4 linked regions of the Homo sapiens genome follow. Changing the gene in region 1 together with any one later gene gives a genetic interaction. Each region holds a gene or a part of one and is shown in the gene's direction. Other genes may lie near its edges.

Region 1 (2,363 bases):
TCCCACTGATGCCTGTATGGGCCTAGTACATAACTCTCCTGTGTACGTTCATATTCTTGTGTGATAAAGGAGAGTGGATGCTTACCACTCACAGACTCTTTAATTTTTTTACTTTAACTTTTTTCATTTCAGTAAGTGGTTGTTGAGCATCACCCTTATGCCACACACAGAGTAGTTGAGAAAATGGCATCTTCATTTGTCTCCCAAAATCTCACCATGATTTGGTATGTGGGTTTTACCTGCACTCTAAGAGTTCCCTACTGCCCTTATACTACCTCAGGGCCTATGGTGGCCCAGAGGGATTGAAAGGATGGGTATGGAATTTTGTTTGTTGGCTGTTCCTAGTATTTTAACCCATTTGTAGACATTAGAATATCATGTTATTGATAGTATCATAGATAAAATCCCAAATGTCCCTTATCATGGAAATAAGTTGTAACAACACTTGGCATTTCATCTGTTCTTTTTTTTTTTTTTTTTTTTTTTTTGGTGAATATTTATTAAAAACCTAGACAAATAATGTTTACATTTTCCTTTCATAGCTGTGGATGGAAAAGCACCACTTGCTACTGGAGAGGATGATGATGATGAAGTTCCAGGTAGGAACGTTTACTTGTGGTTAACCTAGAGAATCTTAGCAAGGGAGAATAAGAAATCTTTGTAGGAAAAACTACCCAGGGAAGAGGGGTGGTAAGTTAAGATGGACATAGATCTTACTTAGAATGAGAAAAATAATGCAGTATTAGGTAATTGAGAATTATGTTTATAGACTTGACTTGGCTTGTTTCTGTTTGGGATCCCAAGGATGTGTAGGTATCTAACCTTAAATATTGAATAAATAAGTATATATATATAGTACCCTAAATATAACTATTACCTGCAGAGCACTAATGACCCTTGCTCCCTACTTTGAAACTCATGAATTTACAAGAAGGTGTGGAGTTGTTCAGGTATCTTGGGATATATATATGCATTCTAAAATCTGTAGCAGCATAACTCCTTTGGGAATCATGAGACATTTTTGTCTCTTACCTGTTATTGGATAAATTTACGTTCTTCTAAAATATTTATTGGGCAGGAGAATCACTGGACTCATAAATATTCCCACTTTGCATAGACAGGTATCCTTAGGAATCCAGGAAAATTTTAACATTGTGTGTCATTGTATTCTTTGGTTCTGCTCCCCCACTATTGACCAATGTATGAGATGGGAAGAGGGGGGCATTTTTTTCACTTTTTTTTTTTTTTGCATTCTTGTTCTTGGGGCTATGACACAGTATTTATCATCATTGGCAAATGAATGTCTTTCCTTCATCCCCTTTTAATATCTGATAATTATTTGTAGATTTGGCTTTTTTAAGAATTTCTACTCTTTTCCTTTTCCTAGATCTTGTGGAGAATTTTGATGAGGCTTCCAAGAATGAGGCAAACTGAATTGAGTCAACTTCTGAAGATAAAACCTGAAGAAGTTACTGGGAGCTGCTATTTTATATTATGACTGCTTTTTAAGAAATTTTTGTTTATGGATCTGATAAAATCTAGATCTCTAATATTTTTAAGCCCAAGCCCCTTGGACACTGCAGCTCTTTTCAGTTTTTGCTTATACACAATTCATTCTTTGCAGCTAATTAAGCCGAAGAAGCCTGGGAATCAAGTTTGAAACAAAGATTAATAAAGTTCTTTGCCTAGTATACAGTTTTATTTTTTTATTTCATTGACACCGATCTGTACACAGTAAAAAAAATTGCTTATAGAAAGCTAATCATGGCATGTAATATGGCTGATAACCTTTGGAATTTGATTAAAGATTTAAAATCACGGTGTAGTGTAACAAAGGTGGTATAAAGTTCTCAGGTTTGAAAACTTTGCTCTCCAACAGTCCTTAGTGCTTCCATGATTTATATGGTGGGTGTAAATATGAGAATAGAGTATTCCTTAGTGGATAAACAGACATTTCTCCCTGATATTCTCTATTGTAAGCATATGTTAAGTGCCTTTTATGAATTACCTCGGTGTTATCTCCTTTATTCCTCAATTTGTGAAGAACTAATAGCTCCATTTTGTAGATGTAACCTGAGGTTTAGAACTTCTAAAAAGTAAAAGTAATCTCCAGATCCCTTCTTTGTAGGATATTTTATAAGGTGACTTGGAAAAGGTAGTGTTTAGAATAGGAGTGGCTCCTGGGTCATTGTCTTTTCCTTAAGTGTCAACACTAATAAATGAATAGGGTTATGTTTTTATTTAATAAAAAATATACAGTAAAATTGAGCATATACAGTTAAAAGAATTTATAATGTCTGCCACTATAATCAGGTTACCAGACAGTTTCATGGTCCCAGAAAATCCCTAAACATAGGGTTACT
Region 2 (2,494 bases), on another chromosome or scaffold:
GGGGGTCCACACCCCTAATCCCTGCATTGTTCAAGGATCAGCTGTAACTACTTTGAAGGGAAAAACAATCATGAATATGTACATTTATACAGGTTCTGATATGTGTTTTATGATGCAGTTAGAGCTAGAAGGTATCAGGATTGTGCATTTAGAGAAAGAGTAGTATGACATTTTAAAATGAATGTTACATTATTTCTTGTAAAATAGAATTTGGTCAAAACGTAGTTTTGATCTAGGACAAATTGATTTAGTAATGGAATTGTTTTTAAAAGACTGCCTTGTGGGTCTTAATAAGGTCTTCAGTATAGTATGTTAGGACATTATGATGATGTTTATTGGGTTTTGCAGTACCATTTTATTTATTGATATGTAACCTTAGTTGTGAGAGAGAAAACTCAGAATCTTATTGATTGTATTTACACAAAGTTGAAAATACTTTCACTCCACTCTATCTCACTTGCTTTTAAATGCAATAATACTTGTTATCATATTCACTATTATCTGCTAAAGGCCATTTCAATTACTTTAACATGGAGTTATGGCTTACCCTGTTATTCAAAATGTAAAATAAAGAATGGCTTAACTGGAATTACTTTGAAGATTGTGGCTATGCATTGCTGAATTTTACCAGTCCACTTTTGTCATATAGTGAAGTAGATGTATGTGTACATAAAGTTTTCTGGTAAAAGTTTTCATCTTAGCTATAAAAAATATTTTTGTCACACAGGGGCTATTTTTGGAGCATTACAAGATATACTTGGGAGCCGTTCTGTTTCAAAGGAATATTATAATCAGACGGGCCGTATACCTGATTGGTGTTCTCTCAATAACCCACCTTTGGAAATGATGTTTGATGTCGGGAAAACTCAACCACCTCTGATGAAGAGAGCATTTTCCACTGAGAAATAGAAGTTTGATTAAAAATCAACCTTGCTTCATATCAAATATTTAACCAATTATAAGCAAATTGTACAAAGTATGTAGGATGTTTTGTTATAGAGGACTATAGTGGAAGTGAAAGCATTCTGTGTTTACTCTTTGCATTAATATATAATTCTTTTGACTTTGTTTCTCTTGTGTAGTGGTAAAATGGTAGCTGGTGCTTATTGAGATTTGCTGTATTTATATCAATAAAGTATAGTAAAGCAGTTTGATTTTGGAAGTTTGTTATGTGGCTTTTTTTTTTTTTTTTTTTTTGAGACGGAGTCTCGCTCTGTCACTTAGGCTGGAGTGCAGTGGCACAATCTCTACTCATTGCAAGCTCCGCCTCCCGGGTTTACGCCATTCTGTCTCAGCCTCCTGAGTAGCTGGGACTATAGGCATACGCCACCCCGCCCGGCTAATTTTTTGTATATTTAGTAGAGACGGGGTTTCACCATGTTAGCCAGGATGGTCTCAATTTCCTGACCTCGTGATCCACCCTCCTCGGCCTCCCAAAGTGTTGGGATTACAGGCGTGAACCACTGTACCAGCCTATGTTGCTTGTCTTTCAAAAAGAACAGTATTTCTCCACAGTTCACATAACCTGTTCTGGGCTCATTAATTGTGTTTCCAGCAGTTACTCCATTTAAAGCATAAATAGTGTTAACCATTACCAGTTATTTCAAATACTAACATGGGTCCATTTAAAAAAAATATTTATTTTGGTACTTGGGTGTCCATATTATAATAATGTTGTTTTTCCAGAAATATATTTGATCTTTGGACTGAGAATGTTTGGTAACATAGTCAAGCATTTGTTAAGCCAAGTGTGGAAATGTTCACTTTTTAACTTTACAGTTTTTTTAATGAGCAATTCTACATTTCTAAGAAAAAAGATACTTCATTTTTATATAAGGTTACAACTGCTTTATAAAAATGTATTCACAATGTCATTAATCTTTGCGTTTGTGCTTTATATCTTCTCAGGGCAGAGGTTCTTGAAATATGTACTCAATCATTTAACTTTTATTTTATTTTTTCATTTGTTTTTAATGAACTACCTCTTGTTGAAATTTTGCTGGCTTCATTCTTTCGGGATACCTGTGTCCTCTAGTCCTACCGCTCTTCCATAGCACTCTTTCCTTAAGCACAGTATCCATAATTGGGGCACTTCTAACTTTTACCTTGTAATCGTTTCAACAGAGGTTTTATCTTCTTTTCTGGAATATAAGCTCTCGTAGAACAAGGCTTGTCTATTTCTTAACTTTGAAACCTCCCAGGAGGATTGCCAGGAATAGGTATACTATTATTTGCCAATTGGATGGATTTACTATTTTATTAACATTATCTCTTTTTTCAGTAAACATGAACTTTACATTTATATTGACCTCATATTTTGGTGAATTTAGATTATTTATGAGAAGTTTTCATCATTGAATAATATCAAAAACAGGATCTGTGACTGAAATAGAGCTTTAAAACTAGCTATAAAGTAGCAGACAACTAGTGGCTGAAGTTAAGGAATGTAGCCCTCTGTTATAGGTTGAATTATGTCCCTCAAAAAGATAGGTTG
Region 3 (3,500 bases), about 36 Mb from region 1:
CTGCTGCCCCTGGAAACTGCCTGTTTGGCTGGATGTCTTGGAATTTATCAGGCCTACATTGTGGATCTTTTCCAATTCTGCACCCTGCTCACTTGAAAACATATTTGAGAACTAGTAATCTTAGACTGCTGAGCCAGACCTCTAGAGAACCAAGAAAGAGAAATAACTCTAATACTGTGCCCTTAATATTGTCCTGGGCCATTTATGGGTGGCTGAGATTTCTGAAAGCCTTTGACAGCCGCTTTCATTATTCTGTGATTCATGTACATTCTCTCTCTCTAGGACCACATTAGGAGGAATCTAACCCTGCTACATTTGTAGGATACCTGAGTATAATAATGATATGAGGAAATCAAATTATTTCTCATGGAGTAATGATTTTAATTTGAAAATTGTCTCCAGCTCTACCTAGCAAAGCAATCCATTTAGGCATGGGTGAACTGTAGCTTTTAATTCATTCCTTTGGTGAACATTTTTTGAGCACCAGACACTAATCTAGGCACTTGGGATATGTTGCCAAACAAAACTGACTGAGATCTTTGCCCATGAAATATGTGTTCTAGTGGGGAAGGCAGACAATCAGCATCATTAATAAATAAGTTATATATTATATTAAAAGATGATACATGCTATAAAAAAAGAAAAGCAGACTAAGGGGAGTTCTGGGGCACAGTTTTAAATTGGGTGGTTTAGATAGCAATGACATTTAAGCAAAGACTAAAAGAGATGAGTCTTGGCTCAGATGGATTTCTTCTACATAGGGTTTCATAAACATGACTTCATGAAGTTATGTTTGTGACTCTCCTTATGTTTCCATATACCTGGCTGTGGCCATCTGGGAATTTCCAGTGGTCTATCTCAAATTAGTCTCAGTGGTGGAGCACCTAGAAGCTGCACTTTGTAGACCATGAGCTATTGATATACTTAATTACATCTTCCCAACCAGGAGCAATTTTATTAGGAGAAAATGTGACTTTTATATGTATGCATTATAAACTAGGTTTTACAAGCATAGGTACAAAGCAACAACAACCCCCCCCCCAAAAAATACCCAAACTATCAAATTAAATATATCTTATTTTTTCAAGTTTTTCTGTTAATATTTACTCACTATTATATTTGTTTTATCATCTTTTAGAACTTGCTAGCCTGGGTAGCAGGCACCATAGATTTGAGAAAAATTGTGGAAAGCAAGCCTAAAGTTGTGAAAACCTGCCCCTTTAACTTAATTTTCCCCCCAGCTGATGGGGAAAACACAGCCATTCTGATTTGATTTTCTCTGTACAATATCCCATTCCTCTTCAGTGGTACATAGGTTAAGAACCACTCTTCTAGAGTAAGTCTGTTAAATCAGATATGAATTAAATAAAAGTCTTGTAGACTCTTTTCAGCTTTCTCCTTAGTTCCTCTGGAATCTCAGGTAAGGGTTTGCAGCCATTTACCTATTTTTTTTTGGCCTATTTTTTTGCCATTCACATGGGAGTCAGAATTTTTATTTCTTTGTTTTTTTCTTTCTTTCTTTCTTTCTTTTTTTTTTTTTTAAGAGACAGAGTCTCACTCTGTCACCCAGGCTGGAATGCAGTGGCACAATCATAGCTCACTGAAGCCTCAAACTCCTAGGCTCAAGCAATCTTCCTGCCTCAGCCTCCTGAGTAGCTCGGACTACAGGCGCGTGCCACCATGCCCAGCTGGGAATCAATGTTCTATCAAAAAGGATCTGAGAGATTTCAAGATATTCTGTCTTAACAAAAGAGTGGAATGAGTAGAGACAAGGAACCAAAGAAATTCAGCCCAAAGTAGATTTAGGAGACGTAGTCATGATTTTCATTTTACCACTAGAACTATAAAATGCTAATATCTAATCATACCCTTTTCCCCTTTAGTCCCTATATATAGTTTGACAAGTGATAGATTATTAATAAACATTGAATTAATGCTTCCACTCATATCTTGTTCTATCAGAGTGAGTTCTATAGAACCTAGTACATGGGGTTTCTGTTTACTAACATTAGCTTCATCTTTTTTCCCTTTAATTCTGTCCACGCTATCCCTCCCACCTCTGCCCTCTTACCACAGACAAAAATTAAAAACAGGTTATAGTTCTCACTGAGAACTTGTGGTTCTTTTCAGCCCCAGAGCACCACTTATTTTCCTTACCAGTAATGAATTCATAGGATCATAACTTCCAGTGAACCTTCTCTTAAACAGCTTTTCATTTAGGTTAATGTCAAGTCTTTGTATTCTGTATCTCTGTTTTACTTCTGCTGTTGTCCTGCTGTTTTATCTCATAGATAGGGAGACATTATTAAATGCCTACAAATGTGCATTGTTTCTGAAAAAGCTTTATGAGATTTGGATCTTTGTGAACTAAAAACAATAACCACCTGGTCTCAATCTGCTGTCCAGAGGGACATATTGTATGTGTGTAAGAGCATGAAATTCGCTTCAGTGGTAAGTGTAACTGAGTTATGTGGATTTAGCATTCCATGATGCCAGCCTCACGTGGTAATGGACCTGGGAAACCTAATTTTGTGGTTTCAGGGCTGTCCAGAAAGGGAGATAATGTCAGGAAGAGAACATCTTTTTTATTTTTATGGAGTATCACCCAGATAATAAGTGATGGAATGGAATTTTACTTCAGGAACACAACTTTATGGTTTAAAAGAAAATGTCTGAAAGTTAGAGGTAAACCATCAGGATGATATTTGATATAGTAGACTAGCCATCAAAGTACCAGCAGGATTGTTTCCATTTTTATCTGGCCTCTTTAGTCAACCACTGCGCTTTTCCTTTGCAGAGTGTTGTTCGCTGCCTGTGGCATCCAAAGCTGAACCAGATCATGGTTGGAACTGGAAATGGATTGGCTAAAGTCTATTACGACCCCAACAAGAGTCAGAGGTATTTCATAAGTATTGCCTGTTTTAGATGGATGACAACAACTGGGGGGAGGGATTTCCCTCCCACCCCCGCTTTTATTTATTTCCCACTTTGATGGAGATCCACCCATTTAGAAAATGCAGCTGGAACAAAGTAAAGCCTCAAACTCCTGGTATTGTGCTTTAAAAAGGATTTGAATATTGCCCTTGATCCACACTGAATTCAAAGCGAAAGTTTCCTGGGAATTTGCAGTTGTTTAGCTGAAATGTTGAGTGCAAGGGGGAAAAACGTTCTGCCCACTTTGCATACCACCCTGGACAGAGGCATTAGCAGTGATACATGTAAGAGATTTAACAAAGCAGGGAACTAACCACTTACAGGAAATGGAATCAGCTTGTCCATTTTGCTTCTTTCTTTTTTGGCTTCTAGCAGTTTGGATGTTTGGCAAGATTATTCTCTGTCCGCAGAAAGGGACAGCACAGATACGTTTCCCCTCCACCCCCATGCCCACCCAAGTTTCAAACTTAAGCATACCACTGTATTTCAAAAGTCTGAAAACGTAACTAGAGGTTCAGTCATTTCCTCAGTTATTTCCGTTTTGCTTAGGCACAAAGATGGATATG
Region 4 (3,500 bases), on another chromosome or scaffold:
TTCCTCTAATTTAACATATTTTTGATAGCTATTTGAAAGTCCTTGATTGCAAATTTCAACATCTAGTCACTTACAGTTCTGTAATCTGCTTCTTTCTTGATTGTGAGTCACCTATTTCTGCCTCTTCATTTGGCTCATGTTTAATTGTATATCTGGCATAGACACTTGAGTACATATTTTCCTCCAGAGAGGGTACACCTTTTCTTCTATCAGGAAGATAGGATAAGGGGCTGATCACTTTGATTCAATTAGGAGTTGGGCTGGGTTGAAACTTTAATTTCATCTCACCTCTTAGTATAGGTGTCTTATTAGGAGATACATCTTGTATGTGTTACTGACACTCACACCCATACCCTACTCTTGCTAACAAGACTAAGGGATCTGATGACCACAATACTATTATGATGTCTCCCTGCTTTCCAGCCCATTCCCAGCTTCCCACCCAGTACACTCAGCCAAAGTCTTGTAAGGGGGAAGCATTAGGTGGGGAAAAACGAGCTATATGTTTGTGGTTCCTACAGATGACAATCTGTAACTCAAGTCCACAAGGTCATTGAAAGCCCTTCTAGTTTTTGCCTACCTCAGCAGAGTCCCTCTGATTATGCAAAGCTTGATCTTTCTTGTACCTTCTCCTCATACTCAGCAGATATGACCAGGGAGAAAGCAGCCACCGATACTAGGAAAGATTTGTCCCTCTCTTTTCTTCAAAGTACCACTTGAATTATCTAGTTGGTTTATTACCTGTCTCTACCCCTAGATTGTATACTTTTTGAGAATAGAGAGAGTTCTGGTCACTACTCTGTAGCCAGTGCCCATAAAGCTATGTTATCTCTAGCTATTTAATTTGTATTTGCTAAGGTTTTTTCCTGGGTTATTTCAAACACTGGGGTGGAATTGAACAGGGGATGATTTCGTTAAACAAGTAAGTAGAGGTTATTCCTAGAAGCCTGTATAAACACAGAAATGGCAGCAAAAAGTGAAGAAAGATTCTGGAGAGTAACCAGCTATTACACACACACACATACACACACACACACACACACACACACACACACACAGATTTGAGGAAAACTCAGTGGAAAGGCAAAGGAATCTCTACATGACAGTACCAAAGTCTTCATTGATTACATTATGTTCTATTCATTAATGTTGACATTACTGAGCCTTTATTATCAGGTATACTCATAAACATAATTTATTATTATGTTTAGTATATTTTTAACTAATGGTAAGAATGTATAATATGTTACATAAACATTTTCATCAATATAAAATCTTCAATAATTTAATGGAGAAATCTTTACTTTTCAGCAATAATTGTATAAAAACAAGTTCTCAACCACATTAGATAAATAAAACTTATTTCTGTATATGCAAACAATGAGAACTAGATTAAAGGGCCCAAATATTAATATAGGTATTTTATGACAAATTCAGTTCTTTTAAAGCTACTTTAAGGTTGTCTTGATGTCCTCCCAAAGCATAATATTTGTATGAATACCTTAATTGTTCCACATTTCATTATAAAATACTTTAGTTTTCTAGTAGCTATTGGAAAGCAAAGATAAATCATCAGAATTATTACAGATTTTATTCCTTTAAAAAAGTTCTTTTTTTTTTTTTTGAGACAGAGTCTCACTCTGTTGCCCAGGCTGGATGGAGTACAGTGGCGCAATCTCGGCTCACTGCAATCTCCCCCCCCCGGGTTCAAGCGATTCTCCTGCCTCAGCCTCCCAAGTAGCTGGGATTACAGGTACCCACCACCATGCCCGGCTAAATTTGTGTTTTTAGTGGAGATGGCGTTTCACTATGTTGGCTGGGCTGCTCTCGAACTCCTGACCTCAAGTGATCCGCCCGCCTTGGCCTCCACAGTGCTGGGATTACAGGCGTGAATCACCACATTCAGCCTAAAAAAAGTTCTTTATCAGGCCGGGTGCAGTGCCTCATGCCTGTAATTCCAGCACTTTGGGAGGCCGAGGTGGGCGGATCACGAGGTCAGGAGTTCGAGACCAGCCCGGACAACATGGTGAAACCCCATCTCCACTAAAAATACAAAAATTAGCCAGGTGTGGTGGTGCATGCCTGTAGTCCCAGCTACTTGGGAGGCTGAGGCAGGAGAATCGCTTGAACCCAGGAGGCGGAGGTTGCAGTGAGCCAAGATCGCACCATTGCACTCCAGCCTGGGTGACAGAGCGAGACTCTGTCTCAAAAAAAAAAAAAGAAAAGTTCTTTATCTAGATAAAGAAATGCTCTGCATTCTGAGTTCATTTTTATTAACTTTTTTAGTTACTAAATTAACACTTTCTATATTCAGGGCAACGTGGACTTACTCTAACTTTTTGCTTTTAGTTCGTGAAGTGACCGAACCTCTGAATTTAAATCCAGCTAAACGGCCTCGTCGACAAGACTGGGATGGAGAATTATATGAAAATGGCTCATTTTATTTTGCTAAAAGACATTTGATAGAGATGGGTTACTTGCAGGTTTGTACCTTCATTTTGCATAACCCTTTTAAGCGCTTTTGTAGGCATACTTTGAGTTCTAGGGAAGAAGTATGGTACAATTTCTTTATGATAAAGAAAAGTATCAACCTATAGAGGAAAGGTAATAGCCAACAACATTTGCTATCTGAGGCATTTATCCTGCAGGTTTACCCCAAAGTGATCTTTGGAATCCATTCAGTAAATATGCAAGGAATTCTGCTACAACGATAAAAAAATGAATCAAGTACTGGGTGTCTACACATGTCCTGGTACTCATATTATTCCACTCAAAACTACGTAATCCATGTTTGTGTTATAGTTATATTGTGGCTGTAGGGTTGAATAACTTCTATTGCTTTAAAAAGACAAATAATTTCATAGAGGTGAAAAGAGTTACAACCTGGGTGTCAGGAAACCCGGAATCTTTTTATATATATATATATATATATTTTTTTTTTTTTTTATTATACTTTAAGTCAACTGCCTCTTACTATGTAAGCTTGAATATGTATCATTTTATCTGTCCTGACTCTCATTTTCAAATAACAGATTTAATGTCTCTCTCATTTTAGAGCCTGCAACATGGTTGCATCATATATTTCTTAACTTGTTAATTTTAGTTATCATTATTATTTATTATTTACTGTGTACTTCGGAGTAGGTGAAACACTTTGCATATGTTATCTTATGTAATCTGCATAGCGAATGAATGAAGTGGACATTTCTACCCAGTTTTACAGAGGAGGAAAACTGCCTCACTGAAATATGAAGTAATTGACTCAAGGCAAAAACAGCTAATAAATGGTACTGTCAGGATTTGGATTCAGGTTCTTATGTTACTCAAGAAATAGCGGTTTTAAAGAGAGAGAGAGAAACCTCTCCATTGTGTAATAAAAATTCTAATGGGACTATTATTCTGAGCAAAAGAGAGAAAAACATTTTTACAAATCTTCTGGTCAATGTGTAGGCAAACTATAGACTAGCTGTTTAGTTAAATTTAAGTGTTCAGAAAAATTG

Evidence for each region. Genes that interact genetically often act in the same process or in processes that back each other up.
Region 2: changes in BTF3 (region 1) and ACTR10 together harm fitness less than expected from each alone (positive genetic interaction), as found in Homo sapiens cells (one large-scale study listed by BioGRID).
Region 3: changes in BTF3 (region 1) and WDR70 together harm fitness less than expected from each alone (positive genetic interaction), as found in Homo sapiens cells (one large-scale study listed by BioGRID).
Region 4: changes in BTF3 (region 1) and CMAS together harm fitness more than expected from each alone (negative genetic interaction), as found in Homo sapiens cells (one large-scale study listed by BioGRID).

The regions. Positions count from the first base shown.
Region 1 is NC_000005.10:73,503,805-73,506,167, forward strand, and holds the end of BTF3 (transcription factor BTF3), read left to right. Parts: intron 1-542; coding exon 543-599; intron 600-1,387; coding exon 1,388-1,434; 3' UTR 1,435-1,863; downstream 1,864-2,363. UniProt on the Homo sapiens protein: When associated with NACA, prevents inappropriate targeting of non-secretory polypeptides to the endoplasmic reticulum (ER).
Region 2 is NC_000014.9:58,233,643-58,236,136, forward strand, and holds the end of ACTR10 (actin-related protein 10), read left to right. Parts: intron 1-727; coding exon 728-909; 3' UTR 910-1,994; downstream 1,995-2,494. UniProt on the Homo sapiens protein: Part of the dynactin complex that activates the molecular motor dynein for ultra-processive transport along microtubules.
Region 3 is NC_000005.10:37,718,318-37,721,817, forward strand, and holds part of WDR70 (WD repeat-containing protein 70), read left to right. Parts: intron 1-2,797; coding exon 2,798-2,898; intron 2,899-3,500.
Region 4 is NC_000012.12:22,056,218-22,059,717, forward strand, and holds part of CMAS (N-acylneuraminate cytidylyltransferase), read left to right. Parts: intron 1-2,349; coding exon 2,350-2,483; intron 2,484-3,500. UniProt on the Homo sapiens protein: Catalyzes the activation of N-acetylneuraminic acid (NeuNAc) to cytidine 5'-monophosphate N-acetylneuraminic acid (CMP-NeuNAc), a substrate required for the addition of sialic acid.